2 separate regions of the Homo sapiens genome follow, and region 2 is linked to region 1. The links come from fine-mapping of genetic effects on gene expression. A gene starts in region 1. The other region holds a variant in brackets. All regions are shown on one strand. Distances are between the middles of the regions. Region 1 holds the start of MS4A7 (membrane spanning 4-domains A7). Region 2 overlaps MS4A5 (membrane spanning 4-domains A5).

Region 1 (4,397 bases):
TCTAACACCAGAGCTCTTCTATATCCCTGTAGGTTTGTTCTTGCCCGGCTAGCTACAACTGATTCTCATCCTCTCTATTCTTCCTCCCCTATTGTTGAAGCATTGGCTGCCACTCATCAGTTCCATATCCTCTCCCAGGGACATTGCTGATCTTAGGGAATATAGGTTGAAGATTTCTTTTTCCCAACTTGCTTTCATGTTGTAGAAACTTGGCTTTTACCTTGCTCTGTGTGGCTCAATAGCCCAAATATACCAACTAGACTCCTTCCTACTAGTCTTCGTCACCAGCCTCCTGAGTTCTGGGTTCCTTTCTTTATTTTTCGAATCTCATACCTAAGGACTGCAGAAAATGCTTGATTCTCAGCCTGAAGCTAGGACTCGAAAGTTTAATTGATACTTTCAGGCTATAGCCTATCTGATACCATGAACATTTATTTTCCTTTGTTATTTCTTAACTGTTTGTTCTGTTTGAAAGAGTGCATAAAGTACCACCATTACAAGGGAATACAGTTTGAAGAAGAAAACAAATTAGCTCCTTAACTTTCAACTGCCACCCGATCACTCTTGTTTCCTATGCACATATTCTTTACATTCTCTCTTCCCATCTGTCACTTTATCTCTCTCCTCTTTATATATGTTCACAGACATTCACAATTCTACGGAAATAGTCATTCTATCCATGCCATTTTATAACTGTTCTTTTTGTACTCAACATTATTCTGTAGACATCTTTGACCGATGAATAGAAATAATAAAAAGCCTAAATTTAAAAGCAAATGATAGATTCTGATACATGGCACAACATGGATGAACCTTGAAGACAATATGGCAAGTGAAATAATCCAGTCACAAAAGGACAAATATTGTATGATTCTACTTATGTGAGGCACCTAGAAGAGTCAAATTCACTGAAAGTAGAATGGTGGTTGCCAGGGGCTGGCGGGAGAGGGGAATGGAAAGCTATTGTTTAATGGGCACGGAGTTCCAGTTTGGGAAGACAAGAAAGTTCTGGAGTTGGGTGGTGGTGATGGTTGCACAATGGTGTGAATGTGCTTAATGCCACTGAACTGTACACCTAAAAATGGTTAAGGCTGGGTGCAGCGGCTCATGCCTGTAATCCTAGCACTTTGGGAGGCCGAGGCGGGCAGATCACCTGAGGTCAGGAATTCAAGACCAGCGTGGCCAACATGGTGAAACCCCGTCTCTACTAAAAAAATACAAAAATTAGCCAGGCATGATGGTGAGTGCCTGTAATCCCAGCTACTCAGGAGGCTGAGATGGGAGAATCGCTTGAACCTGGAAGACAGTGGTTGCAGTAAGCCGAGATCACGCACTCTAGCCTGGGTGACTGAGCAAAACTCTTTCTCAATTAAAAAACAAACAAACAAACAAACAAAAAACAACAAAAAAACACATGGTTAAAAGGCTACAATTATTTTAAGCATATTTTACTACAACCAAAAAGCCAAATGGTATATTTAAATAAATGGAGGTCTCTAGATTCATTTAATCAATCACATGTTCATGACTATTTAGGTGGTTTCTATTTTTTCTTTTTGCCACTATGAACAATGCAATAATGAACATCTTTGCACTTTTGTGATACCTCCTGCATTTAATTATCTCACAGTGATGTATGGAAGTGGAATTATTACATTTAAATCTATGACACTTGAATTTAGATACACGTTGCTACTTTTAGAAGGAATCCTATATAACCAAGATTCTTTATGTTTCACAAAAGTCTCCAGACTGATGCTATCATCTCCAAACACCACAGTCTGAGAGGATGCTTTGTCCTTCCACATTCGCCTTGAGGAGATAGACTGGAGGGACCCACAGCTTTCAAGACAGCTCTAAAATCCGTGCTTTGAAGATAAATCATGACATGGAGGTCAACAGCTCTGCCCAGCAATTTTCTGTATTACAGAATTAGAGTAGGACCATGGGGTTCTAATGCAAGATTCAGTCTAATTGCACAGTATTTGTTGAGAGTAGACTCTGTAAGACTGAGTGACACACCAGGAGAATGCAGAACATTGAGGAAAATCACCTCAATGAGGGAAACCTAAGAATGGTTTTACCCAATTTTCTTATTTGACAAGTGAGTAAACTGAGACCCAAAAAGGGGACTGAGCTGACGCTCCAACTCACACAGGTGGTCAGAATCAGAGACAGGATGATAATCCAATTCCCTGGCTGTCTTTTCAAAAGCACACAATCTTCCCCAAAAGTCATGATCTAAACCAAGGTGTCTACCTGTTCTCGCAGCCTGGTCCTGTGTGCTGTGGCTGGGGATCAGCTCACCTCTGGGGAGCGCTCAGCTGGAACCTCCCACTGGCTGTTCCTGCCAGAACGATCTTGGTGCTCTGCTCTCCAGCCTCTGAGACTTCCTGTCCCTTTCTTAGAGCAGTATTTATGATTACACAGGATGTGAATTTTGCTGTAGTTACAGACAGTTGATATATAAAAAGTGCCTCTGCTTCCTCTTTCTAAATTCTGAGGTCTGGCAAAATGACACAAGATAGAAGTGACACATGAGAAAAAGACCTTTGTGCAGACTAGTGATTTGTACGGTCCCAGTTAAAATTCATTTTCCCTACTCCTACATAGAATTATTTAAGTCATCTAGTTTTGCTTAGCCTGAGTTTTCTTGTCTATTAAATAAATGGTGGATGGATAATAATAATTCCACTCTGTGGGTGTTGGGAGAATTAAAGAAAAAAGATGCAAAGAGTTTACAAAAAGTAGACAATAAATATTGATAATAGTAATGTTAGTTTTGAATTTTGGAGAATCTATTCTCTCACTTTCCAGGCTCTTGGTAAGCTGAAAGCAACCTGTGGAAAATTCCGTGTCTCCTTGTTACTTCTTTTGGGTGTTTCCATTCTCCATCTTTGGCCTCATGCTCAGGGAAGTCCAGGCACATCTTGGGAAAGATGCCAGTGGATTGGCCTCAGAGGCAGAGTCATCAGGCTCCACACAAGCTCATATTTGGGGAAGTATTTGTTGTTGAGGGGACACTGTTGCCACTTTCACATCCCTTTTAAGGCTTCTTGTAGACTAGCCATTGTTCAGAAGGGTAGGGTTTAAGATGGCTCTGGGACATGCAGCAGCTGGCGGCACAACATGCTCCATATACAGTCTCCATTTCCTGAAGGGTGGCAAGGCTATCCCCTAAGAGAGGAGCAAACCTAAGCCTGGGAGATTTAAATAACTCATAAACTACTTGGAGGGTATTTTAGTCCAGTTCTTCTCCAAATGAGGTGATATTGCTGAAGGAATCTGCCCCCAGTCACATGTCTAGTCTGTGGAAGAGGCAGGAATCTAATTCACATCTCTTGGCACTGAGGTCTGGGCTTGCTTCATGGCAAGAGTCTGCCATTTGGTCAACATCTTTTTTTTTTTTTGAGATGGAGTTTTTTGCTCTTGTTGCTCAGGCTGGAGTGCAATGGTGCAGTCTCAGCTCACTGTAACCTCCACCTCCCAGGTTCAAGTGATTCTCCTGCCTCAGCCTCCCCAGTAGCTGGGACTATGGGTGCCCACCACCATGCCTGTCTAATTTTTGTATTTTTACTAGAGACAGGATTTCACCATGTTGGTCAGGCTGGTCTCGAACTCCTGATCTCAGGTGATCCACCTGCCTTGGCCTCCCAAAGCTGGGATTACAGGTGTGAGCCACTGTGCCCAGCTTAGTCAACATCTTCATATCCACAACAAGCACTGTCTTTGCTTAAGAAAACTTCCAGGATCCAGACCTTCCTCTGGGTCTATGACCTGTTTTGACCAAATTGTTAAAGAACCTTGGTCATTTGGGCTTCTTTCACACTTCTGAGCCTCAGAAGGAATTCGTGAGAAAATCAGTTAAATATCCAGTTCACTTTCTCATAAAATTTGAAAAAAGATTTTTCAGAATTGTTGTGAGGATTAAGTCAAATAACATAAAAGTCCCCACCATAGAGCCTGACATAAATGAACCATTAAGAAAATCTGGTATTTCTTGTCCAACATCTTCTCCCACCCCCTTTAGAGAAAAGTGTATTTTATCTCTAGATTGATCTCTGATCTCTAAGTGTAATCTATGTTTACTCTAAATTCATGCTCTTTTCCATTGATGGAAATCTCCTCAGCCCTTTGCAAACAGTCCTGGTGCTCTAGACAGGCAAGTGACTCACAGTCCTAGTGCCTACTTCAAGGATACGATCTCCCCGCCATCCCCACCCCAAGCAGACCATGAAGCTAGTAAAATGGAAATGCGTCTTATATGTTGGAGGACTCTAACAGCCTTGGACAGACTAACTGTATTTTTTTTCTCTAGCAGTGGAGATGACGGGCTGGGGCTAGGGCACAAGGTCTGGTTATCCAGAGAGAGATTCCTTGGAGCAGTGTTCATAGAC
Region 2 (4,397 bases), 61 kb before region 1:
TGATGATTTTAGCTTTCTCTACTCATTCAGCTGAGTTAGCTTTTCCTTTTGGCTTTGAGTTGTTATTAGGAGCATTCAAACCTAGAAATGTAATATTTCTCTTGTGAATCGACCCTTTTATTATAGAAAGTCCCCTATTATACGTTTAGCAATGCTTCTTGCCTTAAATCTATTTGTTTGTTACTAGTGTAGCTGTTTCTTGTAAACAGAATGCAGTTGTGTTTTGTTTTTTAAACTCTTATTTACTGGGACCATCTTTTTTTAAAATTTTAAATTTTTTAATTTTCTATTTTTATGGGTACATAATAGTTTTACACAGAAAATCTTCTAGTTCACTTTCTTTTATTTTATATTCCCTGAGGTATTTTAAAGTTTATCATTTCTTTCTTTTTTTTTTTCAAGTCTTGACATTTTTATTATTGAGGAGTATTTCAGACTGACAGATAATAAGAGAAGGTAGGTTATGCTGACAAATAGTAAGGATATACCCATTTTTTTTGTCGAGTTTCTAAGTCAGCTTGGAAAACTATTGGCTTATCTCCTTTCTTTTTTTTTCTTTTTTTTTTTAATGGCCTTTTTCTTTTTCTTTTTTTTTATTATACTTTAAGTTTTAGGGTACATGTGCACATTGTGCAGGTTAGTTACATATGTATACATGTGCCATGCTGGTGCCCTGCACCCACTAACTCGTCATCTAGCATTAGGTATATCTCCCGATGCTATCCCTCCCCCCCTCCCTCCACCCCATAACAGTTCCCAGAGTGTGATATTCCCCTTCCTGTGTCCATGTGATCTCATTGTTCAATTCCCACCTATGAGTGAGAATATGCGGTGTTTGGTTTTTTGTTCTTGCGATAGATTACTGAGAATGATGATTTCCAATTTCATCCATGTCCCTACAAAGGACATGAACTCATCATTTTTTATGGCTGCATAGTATTCCATGGTGTATATATGCCACATTTTCTTAATCCAGCCTATCATTGTTGGACATTTGGGTTGGTTCCAAGTCTTTGCTATTGTGAATAATGCCGCAATAAACATACGTGTGCGTGTGTCTTTATAGCAGCATGATTTATAGTCCTTTGGGTATATACCCAGTAATGGGATGGCTGGGTCAAATGGTATTTCCAGTTCTAGATCCCTGAGGAATTGCCACACTGACTTCCACAATGGTTGAACTAGTTTACAGTCCCACCAACAGTGTAAAAGTGTTCCTATTTCTCCACATCCTCTCCAGCACCTGTTGTTTCCTGACTTTTTAATGATTGCCATTCTAACTGGTGTGAGATGGTATCTCATTGTGGTTTTGATTTGCATTTCTCTGATGGCCAGTGATGGTGAGCATTTTTTCATGTGTTTTTTGGCTGCATAAATGTCTTCTTTTAAGAAGTGTCTGTTCATGTCCTTCACCCACTTTTTGATGGGGTTGTTTGTTTTTTTCTTGTAAATTTGTTTGAGTTCATTGTAGATTCTAGATATTAGCCCTTTGTCAGATGAGTAGGTTGCAAAAATTTTCTCCCATTTTGTAGCTTGCCTGTTCACTCTGATGGTGATTTCTTTTGCTGTGCAGAAGCTCTTTAGTTTAATTAGATCCCATTTGTCAATTTTGTCTTTTGTTGCCATTGCTTTTGGTGTTTTAGACATGAAGTCCTTGCCCATGCCTATGTCCTGAATGGTATTGCCTAGGTTTTCTTCTAGGGTTTTTATGGTTTTAGGTCTAACGTTTAAGTCTTTAATC[C/G]ATCTTGAATTGATTTTTGTATAAGGTGTAAGGAAGGGATCCAGTTTCAGCTTTCTACATATGGCTAGCCAGTTTTCCCAGCACCATTTATTAAATAGGGAATCCTTTCCCCATTGCTTGTTTTTCTCAGGTTTGTCAAAGATCAGATAGTTGTAGATATGCGGCGTTATTTCTGAGGGCTCTGTTCTGTTCCATTGATCTATATCTCTGTTTTGGTACCAGTACCATGCTGTTTTGGTGACTGTAGCCTTGTAGTATAGTTTGAAGTCAGGTAGTGTGATGCCTCCAGTTTTGTTCTTTTGGCTTCGGATTGACTTGGCGATGTGGGCTCTTTTTTGGTCCCATATGAACTTTAAAATAGTTTTTTCCAATTCTGTGAAGAAAGTCATTGGTAGCTTGATGGGGATGGCATTGAATCTGTAAATTACCTTGGGCAGTATGGCCATTTTCACGATATTGATTCTTCCTACCCATGAGCATGGAATGTTCTTCCATTTGTTTGTATCCTCTTTTATTTCCTTGAGCAGTGGTTTGTAGTTCTCCTTGAAGAGGTCCTTCACATCCCTTGTAAGTTGGATTCCTAGGTATTTTATTCTCTTTGAAGCAATTGTGAATGGGAGTTCACTCATGATTTGGCTCTCTGTTTGTCTGTTGTTGGTGTATAAGAATGCTTGTGATTTTTGTACATTGATTTTGTATCCTGAGACTTTGCTGAAGTTGCTGATCAGCTTAAGGAGATTTTGGGCTGAGACAATGGGGTTTTCTAGATATACAATCATGTCATCTGCAAACAGGGACAATTTGACTTCCTCTTTTCCTAATTGAATACCCTTTATGTCCTTCTCCTGCCTAATTGCCCTGGCCAGAACTTCCAACACTATGTTGAATAGGAGTGGTGAGAGAGGGCATCCCTGTCTTGTGCCAGTTTTCAAAGGGAATGCTTCCAGTTTTTGCCCATTCAGTATGATATTGGCTGTGGGTTTGTCATAGATAGCTCTTATTATTTTGAAATACGTCCTATCAATACCTAATTTATTGAGAGTTTTTAGCATGAAGGGTTGTTGAATTTTGTCAAAGGCTTTTTCTGCATCTATTGAGATAATCATGTGGTTTTTGTCTTTGGCTCTGTTTATATGCTGGATTACATTTATTGATTTGTATATATTGAACCAGCCTTGCATCCCAGGGATGAAGCCCACTTGATCATGGTGGATAAGCTTTTTGATGTGCTGCTGGATTCAGTTTGCCAGTATTTTATTGAGGATTTTTGCATCAATGTTCATCAAGGATATTGGTCTAAAATTCTCTTTTTTGGTTGTGTCTCTGCCCGGCTTTGGTATCAGAATGATGCTGGCCTCATAAAATGAGTTAGGGAGGATTCCCTCTTTTTCTATTGATTGGAATAGTTTCAGAAGGAATGGTACCAGTTCCTCCTTGTACCTCTGGTATAATTCGGCTGTGAATCCATCTGGTCCTGGACTCTTTTTGGTTGGTAAGCTATTGATTATTGCCACAATTTCAGCTCCTGTTATTGGTCTATTCAGAGATTCAACTTCTTCCTGGTTTAGTCTTGGGACAGTGTATGTGTCGAGGAATTTATCCATTTCTTCTAGATTTTCTAGTTTATTTGCGTAGAGGTGTTTGTAGTATTCTCTGATGGTCGTTTGTATTTCTGTGGGATCGGTGGTGACATCCCCTTTATCATTTTTTATTGCGTCTATTTGATTCTTCTCTCTTTTTTTCTTTATTAGTCTTGCTAGCAGTCTATCAATTTTGTTGATCCTTTCAAAAAACCAGCTCCTGGATTCATTAATTTTTTGAAGAGTTTTTTGTGTCTCTATTTCCTTCAGTTCTGCTCTGATTTTAGTTATTTCTTGGCTTCTGCTAGCTTTTGAATGTGTTTGCTCTTGCTTGTCTAGTTCTTTTAATTGTGATGTTAGGGTGTCAATTTTGGATCTTTCCTGCTTTCTCTTGTGGGCATTTAGTGCTTTAAATTTCCCTCTACATCCTGCTTTGAATGCATCCCAGAGATTCTGATATGTTGTGTCTTTGTTCTCATTGGTTTCAAAGAACATCTTTATTTCTGCCTTCATTTCATTATGTACCCAGTAGTCATTCAGGAGCAGGTTGTTCTGTTTCCATGTAGTTGAGCAGTTTTGAGTGAGATTCTTAATCCTGAGTTCTAGTTTGATTGCACTGTGGTCTGAGAGATAGTTTGTTATAATTTCTGTTCTTTTACATTTGCTGAGGAGAGCTTTACTTCCCAATATGTGGTCAATTTTGGAATAGGTGTGGTGTGGTGCTGAAAAAAATGTATATTCTGTTGATTTGGCGTGGAGAGTTCTGTAGATGTCTATTAGGTCTGCTTGGTGCAGAGCTGAGTTCAATTCCTGGGTATCCTTGTTGACTTTCTGTCTCGTTGATCTGTCTAATGTTGACAGTGGGGTGTTAAAGTCTCCCATTATTAATGTGTGGGAGTCTAAGTCTCTTTGTAGGTCACTCAGGACTTGCTTTATGAATCTTGGTGCTCCTGTATTGGGTGCATATATATTCAGGATAGTTAGCTCTTCTTGTTGAATTGATCCCTTTACCATTATGTAATGGCCTTCTTTGTCTCTTTTGATCTTTGTTGATTTAAAGTCTGTTTTATCAGAGA

Evidence for each region. PIP is the estimated chance that this variant, and not a neighbour inherited with it, causes the effect.
Region 2: its variant is the best candidate, but not a certain one, in a credible set for the expression of MS4A7 in left ventricle (GTEx, PIP 0.84).

The regions. Positions count from the first base shown.
Region 1 is chr11:60,376,527-60,380,923 of GRCh38, reverse strand. It overlaps MS4A7 (membrane spanning 4-domains A7), which reads right to left and starts at 2,392. Exons shown (of 7, transcript NM_021201.5): 1 at 2,260-2,392. RefSeq lists enhancers at 2,391-2,440, 3,121-3,360.
Region 2 is chr11:60,437,627-60,442,023 of GRCh38, reverse strand. The region is part of intron 4 of MS4A5 (membrane spanning 4-domains A5); the gene reads right to left. Among named protein-coding and RNA genes, the nearest start is that of MS4A5, 10 kb to the right of the region's middle. The variant C/G (reference allele first, on the strand shown) is at 1,742.